3 linked regions of the Homo sapiens genome follow. The protein of the gene in region 3 purifies or fractionates together with the protein of the main gene of each other region. This does not show direct contact. Each region holds a gene or a part of one and is shown on either strand. Other genes may lie near its edges. The genes, in order: MED13, AKAP8 and NIPBL.

Region 1 (3,652 bases), on a different chromosome or scaffold from region 3:
TCAAGAGATTTTTTGAACAAATAACCTTCTGGAATGTTATAGTTTGGCTAATACTAGTTAGCACAAATCCTGATCCAAAAATCATCCAGCCTTTGCAAATTACTTTGCTCAACGGTATTGACTTACTGCTACAAAATGAGTAACTGAGGGTTTAAAGTATGTATTAAATCAGACGTGATTTGCTGTAACTGATCTTTGCCAGTTAGCAATAAAATAAGTTTACATTCTATTTCTACACATCAGCTAAACTTGAAAGGAAGGTAACCCAAACAAATGCTAAGTGACATAAGAGAAAATGAAATTTAAAATGCACTATGGAATCTGAACAGATTCTTCAGAACTGTCGAAATCATCAAAACCAAAGAAAGTCTGAGAAACTGTCACAGTCTAACAAAGCCTAAGGAGACATGACAATTAAATGTAATAGGGGTATCTTAAATGAGATCCTAGAAAAGAAAAACATATTAGGCAAAAAAATAAAGGAAATCCAAATATATACTTTAGTTAATAATAAAGTATCAATATTGGTTCATTAGTTAATTTTTAAAAATACACTGCATGACACAAAGGAGCTAAGGGGGTTAAACAAAGGCAATTCTGTATTTCTGTTACTGAATATTCCAGTTAAGAAAAACTGAGAATTCTAATCTTTGAAAAAAGAAATGCTTTCCCTCTTCCCTCACTACCAAGAAAAACAAGGGCAATATTATCACCATAATAAAAAACACTTCAGTAACAAGATGTGGTGTGTGCTGAACCAAACAGAAGGACACTGCCTGTGAAGAGCAGGCTCAAGCTAAATTAACCAGCTTTTTAGTTACCACCTGGGTCCTTCCGGTACCCCATTCCTCAGTGCTACACCTCCACTTGGAACTCAGGACTGCCTCCAGCAGCTGATGCTACCCTGTACTGTCCAGCTGCTCTCTTCTCAGGGGAGCTTAGAAGAAGGAAATAGAGTGCCACAGATGGAAGAAATGAAAAAGGGGTTAGCTAGAGAGACAGAGGCAGACTAATTACCCCAAGAGGGAGGTAGACGCTGTCCCTAGAGCAAAGAAAAGGGCAAGACAAATATATTCCATCTGAAAAAACCTTATTATGCTTTAAGATACGTCTGATTTAAGTAACAACATTCTTAAGTAAATAACAGGTTTTATTTTTAAGAAAAGCTAAAATATTATATAAATAACACTGACTATGCAAACTAAAACAGTACAGGACAAGCTTTGGAACAATAAATATGATCATATACCACTCCTAATTGTATTTCAGTTTATTATTTCAATCACTTCACTTTGATAAATTTTTAAGTTATTTACGGCCAGGTGCAGTGACTCACGCCTGTAATCCTAGCACTTTGGGAGGCCGAGGCGGGTGGACTGTCTGCGCTCAGGAGTTCGAGACCAGCCTGGCGAACACGGTGAAACCCCATCTCTACTAAAAATACAAAAAATTAGCCGAGTGTGGCAGCATGTGCCTGTAATCCCAGCTACTCGGGAGGCTGAGACAGGAGAATCGCTTGAACCCAGGAGGTGGAGGTTGCAGTGAGCTGAGATTGCGCCACTGCACTCCAGCCTGGGCGACAAAGCAAGACTCCATCTCAAAAAAAAAGCTATTTACCATTCATTAGCATTCAGTAAAGTCTGACAGCAGTTAAAACCCTACCTCCTGCCTGTAATCCCAGCAGTTTGGGAGGCCAAGGCTGGCGGATCACAAGCTCAGGAGATCGAGACCATCCTGTCTAACAGTGAAACCCCGTCTCTATTAAAAATACAAAAAATTAGCCGGGCGTGGTGGTGGGCGCCTGTAGTCCCAGGTACTCAGGAGGCTGAGGTAGTAGGAGTATGGCATGAACCCAGGAGGCAGAGCTTGCAGCAAGCAAGCTCCACTGCACTCAGAGAGCGAGATCACGCCACTGCACTCCAGCCCGCGGGACAGAATGAGACTCCGTCTCAAAAAAAAAAAAAAAACCAACCTCCCAAAATTATTTTCATTCACGTTCAAGATCACTATCTATTTTTTTTTTTGAGACAGAGTCTCACTCTGTCGCCCAGGCTGGAGTGCAGTGGCAAGATCTCGGCTCACTGCAACCTCCGCCTCCTGGGATCAAGCAATTCTCCTGCCTCAGCCTACTGAGTAGCTGGAACTACAGGTGCGTGCCACCATGCCCAGCTAATTTTTGTGTCTTCAGTAGAGATGGGGTTTCACCATGTTGGCCAGGATGGTCTCTATCTCCTGACCCTGCGATCTGCCTGCCTCAGCCTCCCAAAAGTGCTGGGATTACAGGCGTGAGTGAGCCATGGCACCCAGCTGATCACTATTTTAAAGGTACAAGTAACTACCATTTTTGAAAATTACGCTAAAAATCAAAGCTAGAGAAAAATGTTTAAGACTGTAACCTAGTTTCAGTGGAGAAAACATATCTGACTGGTAACATGAAACCTAGAAGACAAAACTGACTTTTAACAATATCCATCAAAGCAGCTCACATCTAACTTTAATAGTCTTTTAACTTTCACAATATTTTTTCTATTACGGTAAAACTAGGCCAGGTGCAGGGGCTCACACTTGTAATCCCAGCACTTTGGGAGGTTAAGATGGAAGGATCACTAGAGTTCAGGAGTTCAAGACCAGCCTGGTCAACACAGCAAGACCCCATCTCTACTTAAAAAGAAAAAAAGAAAAAAAAAATTAAACATTATGTATCTCTTAAAATTATCTTTGATTCTACAAAGTGTATTTCATGGAATCTTAAAAAAAGATCTGTTTAGTCTGTTTAGATGCTCTGCCAACTTTATTAAGAAGACCAAAGCCCCTAAGTCACCATTATAGTTTTATCAATAATTATGTTTTATCAACAAATATATTTTATCAATAGTTTATAGTTTTTCAACAATGTTATACAGTCTCCAAACATTCTAGTAAGGTGATTTTTATGACCACTTAACGATTAAAATAACTCAAATACTATATCCAAAACAATGAAAGAAAAAGGAGGCTGGCGGACTTAGCTTTTGGCATAATTAGAAAGTATTGTCTCGCTAAAACTACCATATATACATACATCATGTATATGTACATATATGTATATACATATACACATCACTTTACACATTTAGAACTACATTAAATACACACAACTAAGGACTGGACTCTGCAGCAGGCATCTTATTAGAAAAACTACAAAAGCTGGAAAGCTTTCTTGAAGAATTGCAGTCACTCTCAAAAATAACAATTAACACTGGAGAGTATGTTCATTAGAATGTGAAAAGCAATTATCAAAACATACAAATGTAACACGTACATTCCTACATAAATGTTGGTCTTACTAAGTACCAGTTCAAGATACAGACACCTAGAATACATTCTATCCAAAAATAAAATAGATCCTATAGGTCAGAGATACAATAACAAAAACTTCAGAGTACTCAATTTCAAATAAGAACTTAAAAAAAATTATCTAGAAATCCTAAGTTTATCTGTCAAAAATCATTATCAAACTATCTTACTGAAGTCTTTGGAACCTTATAGCATACAACCAATCATTTATATTCCTATTATCTAAGATTCAGTTAATACTGACTTTCACAATTTAAAGCTTCAGTAATTATATGAAAAGCTATAGTTTCTCTTTCTAAAGTAGCATTTGGTCCTA
Region 2 (3,652 bases), on a different chromosome or scaffold from region 3:
CCGGCAGGCAGGGCCTGGAGTCATAGGACTCGAACGGCTGGAAGCGGAAGGAGCTGCAACAGAAGCACAGCCCATCAGGGGCGGTCACCCCGATCACCCACTGCCACACTCCCTCAGTATAACCTCGACGCCCCTACATTCAAAACAGCAAACCAAACCACCCTGCATCCCACCTAAGTGCTGGGATGACCAAAACTGACCAACACCCTCCCTGGAACACTGCTGAGCAGGGGACAGAGCCCCTGGCCACAGGAATAGCATGATGTAGAAAAAAGGAGTCTCGGGGAGCTTAGCCAACAACCACGCCCAAGCCCCGCCATGAAGAAAAGCAAGGAAGTCCTACTGTAACATCACTGACCCCCCACGAGCCCAACTCGTCAATGCCACACCCAAGAGGGAGGCGGGGACAGGCCCTCCCTCAAGAGTGGGTGCCCACTCCCATGCGCACAAAGGTGGGGATGTGTGGGGTCCCGGGGGAGGGCTTGGGTCCATAATCACCTCTCCCGGTCCTGTATGCCCTCCCCACCGCCGCCGCTCCCGCCCCTGCCTCCTTCCTTGGACATCATGTCCAAACGCTGGTTGATCTTGGCAATGAGGGAGTCGGAATTGTCGGTGCATGGCTCTGGGCCGTAAGAGGCCATGTGCATGGCAGGGGCCCCGGCCGCCAGGCCGCCATCATTGGCCTTGGCGGCCTCCCACGAGGCTGGGCCGTAGCTGTAGGTTGCGCCTGTGGTGACACTGGTGTTCTGGGCGCCATAGTAATTGTAGTTTTCATAACCTGTCACAGGGGGAGGAGCCAAGTCAGACTTCAGCAGCCACGAGGCCTGTCCATGGTGGACACAACCGGGGAGGGGCACCCGCTGCCACGGAGAAGGAAAACGGGTGTGGGACCCAGTGCTGCTGGCATCACTTCACACTGCACTGTGACCTGCCAAGAGGCAGCAGGAGGTGGCCAGAGAAAGGGGCAGCCTCAGTGCCGAGCGGCGGGTTTTCCATGCCAGACGCTAGGACCTGTTCCCCATTCAAAGCCGGGTGACTGAGAGCCTGGGAACAGCAGTTCCGGCTGCTGACAGGCCCCACAAAGGACCGCTGCTCCCAAAGCACGGTCGCAGTCCTCCCCATCATGCTCCCCTGAGGCCGCCCACCACAGCCCTCTGCAGTCCCCCCATATACACAACAGCAGCCGTGGCTGACTGCGTCCTCAGGAACAGAGCCAGAAAGTCCACGCCAGACCTCCCTGACGGGCTGACCCGCCTGGCCTTCAGATCAGAGGCCCACTTGCCCGCCCACAGACCCCCCCCACAGAAGGGCTTACCTTGCCAGCTGGCCACACCAGTTCCATATGCACCTTAGGGGAAACAGAAACACACAAGAGCCCTGTTTGCAGAACGAAGGCACTGACACCCCAGCTGTCACCTTGCTCCACCCTCCACAGCCCCAGGGCCAGGGCTTCCCTCCGCAGCGCTCAGGGAGACACCCTTGGGTGTTTTTAGCTCACTCAACTCCTACAGAGCACTAGGCTGAGAGGCTGAGCACAAGCAAGCCCTCTATCCCGGGCAAGGCCAACCGTCCGTCAGGGCAAGGGAAGGGACGCCGCACGCTCCCCAGGAAGCTCGTCCACTGTGGGCTGCTGGCCAAGAGGTTGGCCAGGCCAGGCCCCAGGCAGAGACCTCGTAAAGGGTCAGTTCCCATCAGAAGCCAGAGTGCAGGCGCTGCCAACTGCACAGCGAAGCATTGGTGCAAAGTCACGTCCTCAACTCAAGCGAAAAAGAGGACGTTATGTGCCACGAGCGACTTGGAAGGCCTCCTCCTGAAACACCGGGTGGTGGCTCAAAAGCAGCCCCACTCCCCATGTTGCCTGAGTCAGATCTCAGGCTCAGAAAACAAAGGAAGCCCTCGTGCCCTAAAACACGGGCTGGCAGAAAGGAGAAAGCCTCGCCAGCAGAGAGCATGCACTGGTTCGCCACACAAGCCTAGCATCATGGCCCTGACTCTAAAGCAGGGATCTGCAAAAAGTCCAGCCACACCCAGCCCACTTCCCGCCTTGGCACAGCCCTTAGGATTTTCGAATTTCGGTGCCCATAAATAAGTACCAGCACACTGCCCGTAGCCCTGTGCTCTCAGGCTCTGCCCTCAGCTAAGGATGAATTTTACGTTTTTAAATGGTTGGGGTAAAGTTTCTAAAGTGTATTCAATGACAAATTTTGACATGAGATACATCACTTACACACTGGATCAAAACTCAGAGAACTATACAAATTAACAAAAACTATGAGCTATAGTGAATAATATCACATCAACATTGCCTGATTAATTGTAACAAATGCATCACACCAATGCAAGATTTTTTTTTTGTTTTTTTTTTTTGAGATGGAGTCTCGCTCTGTTGCATGGGCTGAAGTGCAGTGGCGCGATCTCGGCTCACTGCAAGCTCCACCTCCTGGGTTCACGCCATTCTCCTGTCTCAGCCTCCGGAGTAGCTGGGACTACAGGCGCCCGCCACCGCGCCCGGCTAATTTTTTTTGTATTTTTAGTAGAGACGGGGTTTCACTGTGTTAGCCAGGATGGTCTCGATCTCCTGACCTCGTGATCTGCCCGCCTCGGCCTCCCAAAATGCTGGGATTACAGGCGTGAGCCACCGTGCCTGGCCTTTTTTTTTTTGAGACAGGGTCGTGCTCTGTCACCCAGGCTGGAGTACAGTGGCATAATCACAGCTCACTGCAGCCTTACCTCCTGGGCTCAAGCAATCTTCCTATCTCAGCCTTCTGAGTGGCCGGGACTACAGGCACGCACTGCCACGCCCCACTAATTTTTCATTAGTTGGATAAAAGGATCACTTGAGCTCGGGTCTCGAACTCCCAGGCTCAAGTGAGCCTCTTGCCTCAGCCTCCCAAAGTGCTGGGATTGCAGGCGTGTGCTGCCTCGCCCAGCTAATGAAAGATCTTACTAATGAGGCCAGGCGTGGTGGCTCACGCCTGTAATCCCAGCACTTTGATTATGGGATTGATTATGAGGTCAGGAGTTCGAGACCAGCTTGGCCAACATGGTAAAACCCTGTCTCTACTAAAAATACAAAAATTAGCTGGGCGCAGTGGTGGGTGCCTGTAATCCCAGCTACTCGGGAGGCTGCGGCTGCAGTAAGCCGAGATCACACCACTGCACTCCAGCCTGGGCAACAGAGCAAGACTCTGTATCAAAAGAAAAAAAAATCATACTAATGAGATTTTTAGTACACTCACTACAGGTGTAGTGTACACTCAGTACACCTGAGTGGAGGTGGGTGGGCGTATGAAACTCCACTACTCAATCTAAAGCTGTACTAAAAAGTCTGGTAATTATAGAGAAAAAACACCTCGGATATACCCTCAGCTATTTACTCAGAATAACAAAAATATTTTGCCAAAATAGAGTATTCACTAACACGCAAAAATTAGGAACTTCAAATTGTATTGTCTGTAAGTAACTACTGGCATTGTCCCATCCACTCTTTCACACATTTATGACTGCTTTCCTGCTACAGAGACTGTGGAGCCCATAAAGCCACAAAGATATTCACTATCTGATCTTTTACACAAAGTTTGCTGACCCCTGGGCTACTACTCTCCCTTGACCCAAGTTCAGCTCTGCCATGCTAGGGCCTTGAGTTAGGGGA
Region 3 (3,652 bases):
TTCTTACCCACAGGAGGCTGGGGGTGCTACAGGAGGTAATAGACCAGCTTCTCAGGAGACGGGTTCTACGGGAAATGGGTCAAGGCCAGCATTAATGGTTAGCATTGATCTTCATCAGGCAGGAAGAGTGGACTCTCAGGCTTCTATAACTCAGGATTCAGACTCCATAAAAAAGCCTGAAGAAATCAAACAATGTAATGATGCACCTGTTTCTGTTCTTCAGGAAGATATTGTTGGAAGTCTTAAATCTACACCAGAAAACCATCCTGAGACACCTAAAAAAAAGTCTGATCCTGAGCTTTCAAAGAGTGAAATGAAACAAAGTGAAAGTAGATTAGCAGAATCTAAACCAAATGAAAACCGATTGGTGGAGACAAAATCAAGTGAAAATAAGTTAGAAACTAAAGTTGAGACCCAAACAGAAGAACTTAAACAGAATGAGAGCAGAACAACTGAATGCAAACAAAACGAGAGCACCATAGTTGAGCCTAAACAAAATGAAAATAGACTGTCTGACACAAAACCAAATGACAACAAACAAAATAATGGCAGATCAGAAACAACAAAATCAAGGCCTGAAACCCCAAAGCAAAAGGGTGAAAGCCGGCCTGAGACTCCAAAACAAAAGAGTGATGGGCATCCTGAAACCCCAAAACAGAAGGGTGATGGAAGGCCTGAAACTCCAAAGCAAAAAGGTGAGAGCCGCCCTGAAACTCCAAAGCAAAAAAATGAAGGGCGACCTGAAACACCAAAACACAGGCATGACAATAGGAGGGATTCTGGAAAGCCATCTACAGAGAAAAAACCTGAAGTGTCTAAACATAAACAAGATACTAAATCTGACTCACCTCGGTTAAAATCAGAACGAGCTGAAGCCTTAAAGCAGAGACCTGATGGGCGATCTGTTTCTGAGTCACTAAGACGTGACCATGATAATAAACAAAAATCAGATGACAGGGGTGAATCAGAGCGACATCGAGGGGATCAGTCTAGGGTTCGAAGACCAGAAACATTGAGATCCTCTAGTAGAAATGAACATGGCATTAAATCTGATAGTTCAAAAACTGATAAACTAGAACGAAAACACAGGCATGAATCAGGGGACTCAAGGGAAAGACCATCTTCTGGGGAACAAAAATCAAGACCTGACAGTCCTCGTGTTAAACAAGGAGATTCTAATAAATCAAGATCTGATAAACTTGGTTTTAAATCACCAACTAGTAAAGATGACAAAAGGACAGAGGGTAACAAGAGTAAAGTAGACACTAATAAAGCACACCCTGACAATAAGGCAGAATTTCCAAGTTATTTGTTGGGGGGCAGGTCTGGTGCGTTGAAAAATTTTGTCATTCCGAAAATCAAGAGGGATAAAGATGGCAATGTTACTCAGGAGACAAAGAAAATGGAAATGAAAGGAGAGCCGAAAGACAAAGTAGAAAAAATAGGATTAGTTGAAGATCTAAATAAAGGAGCTAAGCCTGTAGTTGTGCTACAAAAACTGTCTTTGGATGATGTTCAGAAACTTATTAAAGATAGAGAGGACAAATCAAGAAGTTCCCTTAAACCTATCAAGAATAAACCATCAAAGTCAAATAAAGGTAAGAATACTTCTACTGATGTCATTTATAATATAATCGATTTTAAGTGTTAAGATTACTAAGTTTTAAAAAGGAAATTTACAAAAATTAGAAAGCTACTACATGAAAATATAACATTTATGTCAAACAACAGGAAATTTTTTTCAGGAGTATAGATAAAAAGTTTCCAGTGAATTTTTTTTTCCCCACAGTTTTTTTCTTCCCACCCACTACTCAAGGTAGTTATGAATGTTACTGCTATTTGGTTACACAGAGATAAGTTATTTTGCTGTTTAGTTATTTCTTATATTTCTGAAATATGCTTAAGTGAATGTTGTATTAAAATAGCTGTCTTTAAAAACTCTCTATTTAAAAATGTCTTACAATACTACATTCTTACAGACCTGTGTCTGAGCCAATTATTGATGAATAATTTGTATAGTTTAGAAAGTTATATAAAAGGTTATTTTTCATTTTGTTGGGGAGATGGTTAGTTAAATATGTTTTATATTTTTAAAACATATCTTTTTGTCCTTGTTTATGCAAAGGTAATAGGGAATGGTACTTACTTTTTAAATTTGGTTAAATTGTAAGTTTGTGGGAGGCGGGGGACTGGTGTTATTTTTGCATGGTTTCTGAATTCTCTGGTTACTTGAGTAAAATTATTTCCAAAGGGAGAAGAATGTCTTAAGTGCCAAAAGATAATGGCCATTTGTGCAGAAGATATACTTCTGTATCCCTTTGTACACAAGTATTTAAAATAACTTTTTTTATTTTTAAATAGAGATGGGGTCTTGCTTTGTTGACCAGGCTGGTTTCGAACTCCTGGCCTCAAGTGATCCTCTCCTCTCAGCCTCCCAAAGTGCTGGGATTACAGGCGTGAGCCACCGTGTCCATACAGTCTAAATATACTGAGGTGTAGTGAAGGCAATAGAACTGAGAGTTTATTTAAGTTTTCCTTCTGTGAAAGAGAATTATTAAGAATTTAGATTTATACTTATATATAACCAAGTATATGAAATCTGGAATTGCATTGGCCAAGAGGGTAACCATTGCCTTTTTTGGCTATTTAAATTTAAGTTAACTAAAATTGGAAGTTCATTTCATTAGTAGTCACATGTGGCTGTTGGCTACCATATTGGACAAAACAGAACATTTGCATCATCACAAAGTTGTATAGCACTGCAGTGTATTAGGAGATACAAAAAGTGTGTGGTTATTGTTTTTCATAACATGCTGTTGTAGCTTGTCTACCAAGAAAGCTCTTTGAAAACATATTATAAAGAACTCTTTATTCAAAGAATGACTTGTGGCTAATCTGTTGTTATTCTTGCTTGGTCTTCGTCAACATTCATTTTTTCACTGTTAATTTATTTCCTTTTGTCTTACAATAATGAAAAAAGATTGCCTTCTGAGTCGCTAATATTTGTGTTCTTTGAGTGAAGCTTTTAAATTTTAAATTATGGCAATTAGACTTACCAAAAGTCAGTTAAGACATCAGCCTTAATTAATAAGTAGGCTTTTTTATTTAACTTGAATGCATCTTTTCAGAGTTACTTGTTAATATAAAAGAGGTTGTAGAATGTGGGGGTTAACACCACAATTGTTTTCTTTTAGGTAAAAATTTTCTTTAAAATTTTTTAGTGAAAGTTTGGGAGTAGCTTATATTTATAAACTAAAGAGTATGGCTATACAATTTTAGAAGAGTCAGGTGAAAGATGGAAAGTGGTACCCTCTTGTTCCTTTGATCTGGACCATCTTTCTCTCCCTCCCCTCTCAGCTTACCCTAGCCTTGCTTTCTAAACTCTGTTCTAACAAAGAGTCTTTTAAAACTCCTTAAAGAACATCCAGAAGTGAATATAGCTTTTAGTTAGTAATTGGTATATTATTTCACCTGGGTTTTTCACATGCAATAATATTGCCTATGAATATGTTTTTAGCACCAAAATGCGTTTCTGATAGTATACTTTTAATGCAGATGTATATACCTGATATGGTCATGTTAGTATGTAAGTAAGCTATCTGGGTGTCTGCCTATTAGAGTGATGTGTGTGTATGTGTACATGTGCATGTTT

Evidence for each region.
Region 1: the proteins of NIPBL (region 3) and MED13 purify together in Homo sapiens (affinity purification with mass spectrometry, with the first as the bait; one large-scale study listed by BioGRID). This does not show direct contact.
Region 2: the proteins of NIPBL (region 3) and AKAP8 purify together in Homo sapiens (affinity purification with mass spectrometry, with the first as the bait; one large-scale study listed by BioGRID). This does not show direct contact.

Annotation. Positions count from the first base shown.
Region 1 is NC_000017.11:62,058,694-62,062,345, forward strand, and holds part of MED13 (mediator of RNA polymerase II transcription subunit 13), read right to left. Parts: intron 1-3,652. UniProt on the Homo sapiens protein: Component of the Mediator complex, a coactivator involved in the regulated transcription of nearly all RNA polymerase II-dependent genes.
Region 2 is NC_000019.10:15,373,288-15,376,939, forward strand, and holds part of AKAP8 (A-kinase anchor protein 8), read right to left. Parts: intron 1,349-3,652; coding exon 1,316-1,348; intron 779-1,315; coding exon 499-778; intron 54-498; coding exon 1-53. UniProt on the Homo sapiens protein: Anchoring protein that mediates the subcellular compartmentation of cAMP-dependent protein kinase (PKA type II).
Region 3 is NC_000005.10:36,984,704-36,988,355, forward strand, and holds part of NIPBL (nipped-B-like protein), read left to right. Parts: coding exon 1-1,598; intron 1,599-3,652. UniProt on the Homo sapiens protein: Plays an important role in the loading of the cohesin complex on to DNA. Forms a heterodimeric complex (also known as cohesin loading complex) with MAU2/SCC4 which mediates the loading of the cohesin complex onto chromatin.